Linked DNA regions of Homo sapiens: region 2 is linked to region 1. The links come from fine-mapping of genetic effects on gene expression. A gene starts in region 1. The other region holds a variant in brackets. All regions are shown on one strand. Distances are between the middles of the regions. Region 1 holds the start of PLGRKT (plasminogen receptor with a C-terminal lysine). Region 2 overlaps CD274 (CD274 molecule).

Region 1 (5,381 bases):
TATTTCCATCCACCCACTGCTAACTGCCTTAGCCATCCTCCTCCAGCTTCACTCTCATTCTCTCCAAGATAGCATGTACTAAAGTTCTCAAAAATGGAAAAACATACAGATACTTGAATGTCCTGGAAAATGTACTTTTTAGATGAATGCACAGTAGTGTCTATCTTATGTAAGTTTTTAAGTGGGCTGTCAACTCTACAAGGGACAGAACTCCAATTTTTATTCTTAATCCAACTGGGTGGGTACAGAAGACCTTGAGTTAGTTGGTTGCATTTCAGAATACTGCAAAACTCAGGGGAAAGTTACAACTGCTCTACCCTTCTCAACAATGTTGCTGATACCTTTTCTCTTTAATAGGCTGTTGAGTAGGGTTGTGAACCTCAGGTAAGAATGGCCAGTCTTAATTCATTACAGCCAGGATTCCCAAGTATTCTGTGGGAAGCCCAGCTAATGGGGTTCCAGGTGAGTGGGAGCTGCAAGCAAGACTTCAGTGACTTCCTTGTATTCTGATCAAGGATACACCTGGAGTTTCAGGGCTCTGTGCCAGAGTCAGCTTCAAAGCTGAGCACAGGATACCAAACCACTTACCAGGATGAAGAGGCACAATGCTGAAAAGGCCTGAGGTGGTGAGATTTCCCTCCCCTTCTGCCACTGTGCCACTCGAGCACCCTGTGACCAGAGTTAGAGGCCACTCACTGACAGCAGGGTGATTTGGCAGTTCTTTCCTTTCTCCAAACCCTAACAGTCCCATGCGACTCATCTCTAACAGCAGACCAGAACCTGCCTGAGGTTAGGAGCGAGATATTATCCATCTTGATAGTCTCCATGGTGTCTACTTCCCCTAAATATTTGCACAAAGCATGAGAGATACAAGAAAAACTGTGGCTCAGGCCACTTGCCATTACTTATTTTTCTTCTGAACATAGGAGTGGATGACTAAATTTTTACACCTGCTGCAAACATTTATAAAGAAAACAACTGTACTCTAGTACTATTCCTCCACATACCCTGTATATCACAGAGCTGTGTGCTTTCAAGTGCTCCTGTTTGTAAGGGGTTAGGATCTCCCCTGAAAAGAGAGAGTCCTCATGTCAATCATCTGGGAAAGAAACACTGTCTGGGAAGTTAGTATTTAGATTTACCTCTTTCTGGGCCTTGCTCTCCTGGGTCTGGACTTGTAGTCTGAATGTGTTAGAGGACGCTCCCAGGTGGAAGGGTTAAAGGTGGAAGCCAAGCAGGAAGAAGAGCTTCCTTATGGGAAACCACACCTGAGAATAAATAAATGCATCACACCTTGTAAATTTCACCCTGGAGTTCAGTATTTTCAACATTCTTTCCTTTCCCAACTTCCCCATTCCTGGCAAAGTCATTTCCCAAAGTCTGGGAATATTCCGTAGGGTGTCCAGAACACTTTCAGCTATCTCCTCTTGCTCACAAAATATGTATCAGAAAATAAGCAAAATTGACCTTGCAATAGGGATAACTTTGATTTCACTCACTTGTATAAGTTAAGTCTTTTAAAAATTCTAACACTTTTCACCAGGGGTAAAAAAAAATGTCTTGCTACTTATACAATTTTAAACATCACTGTGTCTCAGAGTGATGTTTTGCAGAGAATGCTGATTTCAATCCCTCTGTCTTCATTTTCCCTTTGATTCCTTCTGAGATCTTGGAAGGGGTCTTTAATGCTTCAGCCCTGCCTCAGGTGAGCTATAGATTACTATGGGAAGGTGTATTTCTGGGGAGGAGAAGTGGTGCCTGCAAGTTCCAGACAACCTTTCTTCCGGTCACCCGTGAGTACCTAGATTTGATTTTACTTGGGGGGACATAAAAAATTAATTGCATGAATTCTGTCATCGGGATTACCACGCTGACTTATTTCCCGATCAGATGACACATTGCCTGAATGTATGACTGATCGTCTCACCACAGTCATTTTCAATATTTGCATCCCATTGAAATTAAGCCACATCCCCTTGCAAATTCCAGCCCAGAGCCCACAGCTTCCGGAGGTTTTCTGTAATTAACACCGCCCTTGCTCCCTGAGGCCAGTTACTGTAATTTAGGTATTCCCCGCAATAGTGTGCTGATTTCTGTTGAGAGCACTGTGCCTGTTTTTCTCAACTCTATTTTAAAGCTACGGAGAGATCCGGAGTCCACGCCAGGCGACAAGAACGCGCTCTAATGGAACGAAGTTGGCAATACCTATCAGCACCAGGGGCAGTGCGAGAGCCAAGAGCCGGCGCTCACGAGGAGCGGGCGCCCAGCGCTGCCTGGCAAGCCCGGAGCCCAGGAGATCGCGCTGACTGACATGGCCGGGCTGACCCTTCTCCCCACCCGCCTGCGGCCGGTGTTCACTCACTGGGCGGCGCTGGTGCCGGGACCAGGCGACCGGTACGCAAACCTCCAGGCCCGGGCTCCTTTCGCCCGCTGCAGGGACCGGGCCTCGCTCCGCCCAGCGTCGGGATTGGCGCCCAGACACAGTAGATGACGCACCTCAGCCAATTCGCGCAGCCCTCAGCTTCTTTAAAGAGCCGGCACTTCCGCCAGAAGCCGGGTGTGTCCTTCCGGGCCAGGCTCAGTGTTACCAGAGGTGGGAGGGGAAGGTCAAAAGAGGCAAATTCAAAGCCGCGGCGACTCAGCTGCCAGATTTTTGAGATGAGGCAGAGGAAGCGGAGTGGAATTCTCAATTAAAGGCCTCTGTCCCCTCATCTGTTAAATTGGCACTATTAAAAAGTCATAAAGATAAGACAGAAACGAGAAAGAAGAGAATTGACTGAAATTACCCATTCTTTTTTGAACAGAGCCGTCTTTCTCCCCTGCTGCTCAGAGAGATGTCGGTCTCGCCTCAACCTCACCAGCAATTTCTATCTTGAATAAGCCACGTCTCTCTCCCAGCCTGAGAGAATGCTTGAATTGTTGGCACTCTGTTCTTTGCTACCAAATGGCTTGGAAAAATAGCATGAACGTCACCAGTCTCTGGCCTTCAGGAAAGTCCCTGCTAACCACCACAGCGGTGGAGAAGGCGTCTAACTTTCTCCAGGCTCAGCGTGTGAGTGCACACCGCCCTGACCTCCTGGGCGCGTCTTGATGCTCTCAACAGCAGCCCTCAGGATTCTGGACTGTGGGTCCCACATTCCAGATACCATTTGTGGAATGGCTGGATGAGAAAATTGCAACAGCACCCTCATTTCCAGTTAAGGGAATGGGCGGGTTACCAGGAGGTTTGACACTCTTGAAGGGAGGTTAACAACTGATGCAAGAAGTAAGGAATCGTGTTTGAGTGCACAGACTCTAGCATAAACACACCTACCTTCAATTTCTAGCTCTGTCACTGTCACTCTGAATTTATCACCTCTGCAACAGGACTAAAGCCATCTAATTTATTGGATTGTGAGGACTAAAAGATAATATATGTGGGCATTTAGCACAGTGTCGGGCACATAGTTCGCCTTCCGTAACCAGTAGTAACCAGTAACAGCGGGGAGCTGTTAGTAACTATAGGGCTGAGGGGTGGGGGAAGGAAGCAGTTACTAAAACCAGGCGAGAGCGAGAGCGGTAGCTGTGGCTGTACGAGAGAGTAACCAACTGGAACCGTGTCGTTCAGTAGAGGAAAGCAAGCAATGCCAACTTTTCACCAAGTAAGGTGAGATTCTATAGTTGTAGCCAGTGCTGAGACGTCAGCCCAAAGCAGGGACAGAGTGGAGAAGACCCACCTCTCTGTTCTCCCAGCTCTGATATCCAGCTGGGGTCTTCCGCTGGCTGGATCCACCAGGAAGCCAGAAGACAGTGGAGCTAGGTCTGTGTAGTCTGTAGAGGTCAGCCTACTAGGCACAATGCCTGGAGGGAGAAATAGAAAATATCCAGCACACCATTTCTTTTTTTTGTTTGTTTTTACACTTTAAGCTCTAGGGTACATGTGCACAACGTGCAGGTTTGTTACCTATGTATACATGTGCCGTGTTGGTGTGTTGCACCCATTAAGTTGTCATTTACATTAGGTGTATCTCCTAATGCTATCCCTCCCCCCTCCCCCCACCCCACAACAGGCCCCGGTGTGTGATGTCCCCCTTCCTGTGTCCAAGTGTTCTCATTGTTCAATTCCCACCTATGAGTGAGAACATGCGGTGTTTGGTTTTTTGTCCTTGCGATAGTTTGCTGAGAATGATGGTTTCCAGCTTCATCCACGTCCCTACAAAGGACATGAACTCATCATTTTTTATGGCTGCATAGTATTCCAGCACACCATTTCTACAACCTTGGGTTTATTGTGTTTGGAAGCCTAGATCCAAAGGAAGGAATGCTGCCACTAGAAGACCCCGTCACTGAATTGAATTGAATTTCAATTCATTGATTCGAAAGCTGAAACTGCCCTCTGGTCACTTTGATTCCTCACAGTGACAGAATGGTATGATTCATCCCAAATACCAAAAGGAAATTGGGTTACATCTATATATTGAGGGCAAGAAGAACTATGCATGACACCTGGAGATTCACTGGGCACTTCTTAATACTGCCGTGTGCCATAATAATGATTATCAGATAACTGAAGTAATGCAGAAATTTCAGATCATGAAGAAATTAAAGTGTTGAAGCATACCAGATAAAAAAATCCTGATCTACCTAGGTGTTGGCATAGGGCAGGGGAAACATACATAAGTAAATGAGTAGGAAGCTATGATTATTAATTTTAGCCTTGCAACAAGCTCTAGAGGCAGGAATTATAGTAGCTCTCCATTTAAAATGTTAATTACTTCTTCCCTGACTCTCTTTTCCTATTACCCTGCATAAAGAGTAGTGGTGGAGATAAATATTACAATTTAGTTTCTGGGTGAGAATGTGCCTGAACTGACATCCCCTCAAGGCAATATGGCAGCTGATGAGGCTTGTTAAGGAAAATCAAAGCTGGACAATAGCTGTAGCAGTAAAAATAGATTTTTATTCAGCAACTTTTGAAATAGGGGGAAAGAGACCTTGGTAAAGAACTGGGCTCAATTCTGAATACAGTAAGGATAAGTGGGGATTTATAGCCGAGGAGCAGGTTGTGTGGATGGGGGTGGGGTCCGTGGATGGAAAATTACTAAGAAGAGACAGCAAGGGTAGGGGAAATCCTTGCTAAACTGACCTAACAGGATTCTTGCTAAAGGTAGGCCAGGGTAAGCAGACATCACCTGGGGGCTGGTGGGGGTAAGGAATTTGATCAGATATTGAGAGTGGTCAAACATTCAGGGTGGGAAGATCCTCTCTAAACTGACTTAGCAGGATTCTTGCCAACACTGATTCTGCAAGGATGAACACTGCAGCCCAAGGTCAATATCTAATCAAGGAGATGGCTTAGAGGAGCCTGACTAAAGTTTGGTCGAGGAGAAATCTTGTCAGAC
Region 2 (5,381 bases), 28 kb after region 1:
ACAACTAATGAGATTTTCTACTGCACTTTTAGGAGATTAGATCCTGAGGAAAACCATACAGCTGAATTGGTCATCCCAGGTAATATTCTGAATGTGTCCATTAAAATATGTCTAACACTGTCCCCTAGCACCTAGCATGATGTCTGCCTATCATAGTCATTCAGTGATTGTTGAATAAATGAATGAATGAATAACACTATGTTTACAAAATATATCCTAATTCCTCACCTCCATTCATCCAAACCATATTGTTACTTAATAAACATTCAGCAGATATTTATGGAATATACCTTTTGTTCCATGCATTGTAGTACTCATTGGATACACATAGAATAATAAGACTCAGTTCACACTCTTCAGGAAACAGATAAAAAACTAAGAAACAAACAAAAAACAGGCAATCCAACACCATGTGGGAAATGCTTTCATAGCCGGGAAACCTGGGGAATACCTGAGAGGAATACTCAATTCAGGCCTTGTTTCAGGAATCCAAATCCTGGCACATCAGAGCTGCTTCCCTCTTTCCAGGGTGGCAGGAAATAAATGGAACATATTTTTCTATCTTATGCCAAACATGAGGGACCCTTTCTCCCCGGTGCCTCTCCCAAGGTAGTCTACAATATTTCAACTCTAGCAGTCTGCTTAGTGCATAGAACATGAGGCTGTGTGTCCCTGGGCAAATTACTAGACTTCTGTGTGCTTCACTTTCCCTGTAGGATTATAATCTACTGAGCAAGCTTATTGTAAGGGTCAGATTAGCAACAGTGTATGAAAATGATTTGAGACCATTGCCTGCACAAATTCAACTATTTTTTTTTATCTCACTACTCTACAGAAGTAGGTAGGGTGGGAGACAGAGTCTGATGAGAGGCTCAGAATGTGAAAGAAAGTGAGGCGAGTGAGCATGATATTTAATATAAACACAAAGATATTCTGAGAAGAGCTGCTCACTGCCCCCTCCCCCAATACATGTTGATAGGAAAATGCCACGTACTTCAGCAAAAACAACTGAAAAATTAGATAGAAAAGTCAATCAATAGGAAAAGATAATCCAGGACGGTGTTGTGAACAGAAAGAGGGGGAAAAAACTTTAGAAAATGATGGGGATGCTCTTACTGGGGTACGAGTCCTCAGGTATTGAACTGGCTTTCAGTAAAAGCTAGATTAGTGGGTTCCTGCCATTTACAAGCTGTTTTATGACAACTTACTTGTTGGGTGGCCTACAGTAACTCACCTAACTGCACTGAGTCTGTTTCCTCATCTGTAAATTGGGGATTTTTTTTTAAATACCTGGCATGCCTAACTCATAAAGTTGTTCTGAAACTGAAATAAAACATACGTGAACAGGCATTGTAAACTGTAAGTTACGGAAAAAGCTGGCTGTTGTTGTGTCTTTAAAGTTTCACCTGGGTAGTCAAAGATGGATCATGGGTCTCAGTGGAGAGCTGAGCCAGGCAGGAGCTGACTAAGGGTGAGAGGTGGGAGTTAGCAGCCTCTGAACATCTGTGTACCATGGGACCCCCTTTCCTCCTGCATGGTACCCCAGACAAGGAGCCTAGTAAGAGATACTAATGGCTTGTTGTCCAGAGATGTTCAAACTGCAGAGAAAGATAAGACAACAAGCATTGGCCTCCAATCATGATGACAGATAGGAGGAGGTGGGAGCTCCTTAGCAGTGCTGGTTGGCCTTCCATGTTCTACTGTGGGCCATCTCTGCCATGTACTGTAGGCTACTAGCTTCTATATTAAAGAATGCAAGAGGGGCCAGGAGCGGAGGCTCATGCCTGTAATCTCAGCACTTTGGGAGGCCAAGGTGGGCAGATCACTTGAGGTCAGGAGTTTGTGACCAGCCTGGCCAACATGGTGAAACTCTGCCTTTACTAAAAATATAAAAATTAGCTGGGTGTGGTGGTGTGCACCTGTAATCCCAGCTACTCGGGAGACTGAGGCACAAGAATTGCTTGAACCTGGGAGGCGGAAGTTGCAGTGAGCCCAGATTGCGCCACTGCACTCCACCCTGGGCAACAGAGAAAGACTCTGCCT[C/CA]AAAAAAAAAAAAAAAAAGCAAGAGGAAGTGAAATAATCAAGGCCGCCATTTAATAGTGAGCAGCCACTCCATGTGGTACTGTGCAAGCACATTATAAATATTAGCCTCACAAGAAATGTATTAGCATTTGTATTTTGTACACTGGTTAAGTATCTTGCCCAAGACCTCAAAACTGGTTAAGGGCAGCAGAATTTAGCCCCAGCACCACCTTTTCAAAGCCTGGGCTTCTCACACTTCTCCATGCTGTTCCCATTTTAACACAGGTATCTCGCCATTCCAGCCACTCAAACTTTGGCATTTAAGAAAATTATCCTAAAGCTAAACTAAACTTCAAGGATGACCATTCTCCTGACCCCTTCCCATCAAAATTTTATCTTTAGTCAGTTTGTTTTCGTTTTGTTTTGTTTTTCAGAACTACCTCTGGCACATCCTCCAAATGAAAGGACTCACTTGGTAATTCTGGGAGCCATCTTATTATGCCTTGGTGTAGCACTGACATTCATCTTCCGTTTAAGAAAAGGTAGTATTTCCTTAATTGCAGTGGTCTCCACTGGGGGTGAGGAAGGGGTGAGAATTGGATCATGGCTGCAAGGAAACCCGACTTAACCTCTGCAAGGTGGTGCAAAGGCATTCCACTGTTCAACAGCAATTATATTGAAGCTGAGTGGGATCACTGGGTGAAGATGAAGCGTAAGGGGTGAGGGGCAGGAGAATGGGTATGGATGGAGGTAGAAGATGCAGTGTCATACAGTTTTTTTCTATCATGAAAATAACCACAGACTTACAGAAGAGAAAGAGCTAAAATGCCCGTCATTTTCAGTTGCATTTTAGTCTTGCATTAGTTGCAACCAGCTGGTTTCTGGGTACCCTAAGTAATAAAAATAGTTCCTCTGTAGAACTGTAGTATGTTTACCATAGAGTATTTTGCAAAATTTTTGGTAGAGGATGTTACATAATTTGCATGTGTTCATTTCTCCATTTACCTGTGGGAACAATTAAAATCCAGGAAAATGAGTATATTCAAATAATTTCCTCCCATTTAAGATGAGTCAGAGTAAATAATTCCTCCAATACTTAGAGAAGTATACCAAGAGATCCAGTGATGGTATAGAGTTGTCTGATGTTAAATAGGGAAGTAGAATATGGAAGGGGATTCCAATAGTCGTTGAAAAATTCCCCATAACCCCTTACATGGGGGAAAGTAGTGTTAACTGAGAGAGTAGAGATAAGCTGTTTCCAAAAATTATATTCTTAACAGGACTGAGATAGCCAGAATATAAGGATCAAGTTTCAATGACAGTAAGATCCTGAGATGGAGTTGATTTGCACAAAGAAATAATTGTTGCCAGCATGCATTTTGAATATTTCTCTGGAAAAAAAGATTAGTTGGCAGTAGAAATGGATAGAAATCAATAGATATTAAAATACCTCAGAATTTGGTTCATCTCTGGGAAAAGATGAAAAATAAAAGTGTATACTCCTCAAGAACATCTAGGATCAAAAGCATGTGCCCTACACTATTGAATTAATTAACCTCATAAGTTGGGACCTGTGGAATAAGGATGTCCACCAGACTTCCTAGGGATTACAAATGTTTCACAGAACTTGAAATTTAAACTTGGGTCACTGTATGGGATGTAGAGCTGTGCTATATGGAAATAAAAATGATTTCTTTTTCTCAAGGGAGAATGATGGATGTGAAAAAATGTGGCATCCAAGATACAAACTCAAAGAAGCAAAGTGGTAAGAATATCAGAAGGAATTGGGAAGTAAAAGTCAAAGGAAACAAAAAGCTAAAGCAATAACAAAGAGAAATCCATCAGTCATAATCTCCTCTCCTTTTAAAGAATGCTGGTTCCCCTTTGCCTCACAGCTAACACAAGAACTCCTCCACCGTCTGAGGAGGTTTAGGAGCAGGGAAGGGGAAGGAGTCAGCTTCATTTGCTAATCTTCTGTTGCCCTGCACCCTAGCAGCTCCTTGCAGCAGGGGACAAGGATGACTTAGGTGGATGGATAATTAATTGATTCTAAAATATTGTGTGTCAGTATTGTAATACTATGTTAATTGCACCATGCACGGTATCTCATTTAATCCCCCACCCCTTGCCATTACCAAAGAGAGAGAGAGAGAGAGAGAGAGAAATACTAGAATTTATCCTCATTTTACAGTAGAGAAAACAGAGGGTCAAGAAGATAATGTAAAGTGCCCAAGAACACACAGCTGATCACAAAAATCAAGCTTGGGGGCCATTAGCCTAACCACAGACCCTTACTCTTAACCCATCTGCTTCAATCCATTTTGCTACAAATGTTTACATTTATAAGCAGGGCAGAAAAACCTCATCCAGGTTATTGAACTAAGAAGAAAGTTATATTAAGGTTTCTAATTTTTTTAATGTAGTTAGAAACCAAACTTAACAATGAGCCCAAGTTTAAAGCAGTCTAATTAACCTGGACAAGCTCAGGCAAGTTTCATTCTGTGGCCCATAGCATCATCTGTGTTGTAAAGCTAAGTAGCAAATGTTGTTTGGGTCATGCTGGGGGACAAGCCATCCCAATTTGCTCAGGACTGAGGGGTTTTCCAGGATATCATGTAAGGATAATTGGGTACAAATATAACCTGCTGCTTTCTCTCATTTCAAATTTATCATTTATCATATCAGCAACTATGAGTTATGTTTTTTATTAGATTTCTTGTTACTTTTTCCCCAGACCACTTCCCATGAAATTAATATACTATTATCACTCTCCAGATACACATTTGGAGGAGACGTAATCCAGCATTGGAACTTCTGATCTTCAAGCAGGGATTCTCAACCTGTGGTTTAGGGGTTCATCGGGGCTGAGCGTGACAAGAGGAAGGAATGGGCCCGTGGGATGCAGGCAATGTGGGACTTAAAAGGCCCAAGCACTGAAAATGGAACCTGGCGAAAGCAGAGGAGGAGAATGAAGAAAGATGGAGTCAAACAGGGAGCCTGGAGGGAGACCTTGATACTTTCAAATGCCTGAGGGGCTCATCGACGCCTGTGACAGGGAGAAAGGATACTTCTGAACAAGGAGCCTCCAAGCAAATCATCCATTGCTCATCCTAGGAAGACGGGTTGAGAATCCCTAATTTGAGGGTCAGTTCCTGCAGAAGTGCCCTTTGCCTCCACTCAATGCCTCAATTTGTTTTCTGCATGACTGAGAGTCTCAGTGTTGGAACGGGACAGTATTTATGTATGAGTTTTTCCTATTTATTTTGAGTCTGTGAGGTCTTCTTGTCATGTGAGTGTGGTTGTGAATGATTTCTTTTGAAGATATATTGTAGTAGATGTTACAATTTTGTCGCCAAACT

Evidence for each region. PIP is the estimated chance that this variant, and not a neighbour inherited with it, causes the effect.
Region 2: its variant is the best candidate, but not a certain one, in a credible set for the expression of PLGRKT in neutrophils (BLUEPRINT, PIP 0.60).

Annotation. Positions count from the first base shown.
Region 1 is chr9:5,435,427-5,440,807 of GRCh38, forward strand. PLGRKT (plasminogen receptor with a C-terminal lysine) reads right to left here and starts at 2,499. Exons shown (of 6, transcript NM_018465.4): 1 at 2,363-2,499; 2 at 1,143-1,268. RefSeq lists enhancers at 1,801-3,000, 2,056-2,145, 3,706-3,865.
Region 2 is chr9:5,463,043-5,468,423 of GRCh38, forward strand. CD274 (CD274 molecule) reads left to right here. Exons shown (of 7, transcript NM_014143.4): 4 at 1-79; 5 at 2,457-2,564; 6 at 3,728-3,787; 7 at 4,798-5,381. The coding sequence ends at 4,820. The region is part of intron 2 of INCR1 (interferon stimulated noncoding RNA 1); the gene reads right to left. Among named protein-coding and RNA genes, the nearest start is that of CD274, 15 kb to the left of the region's middle. The variant C/CA (reference allele first, on the strand shown) is at 2,044.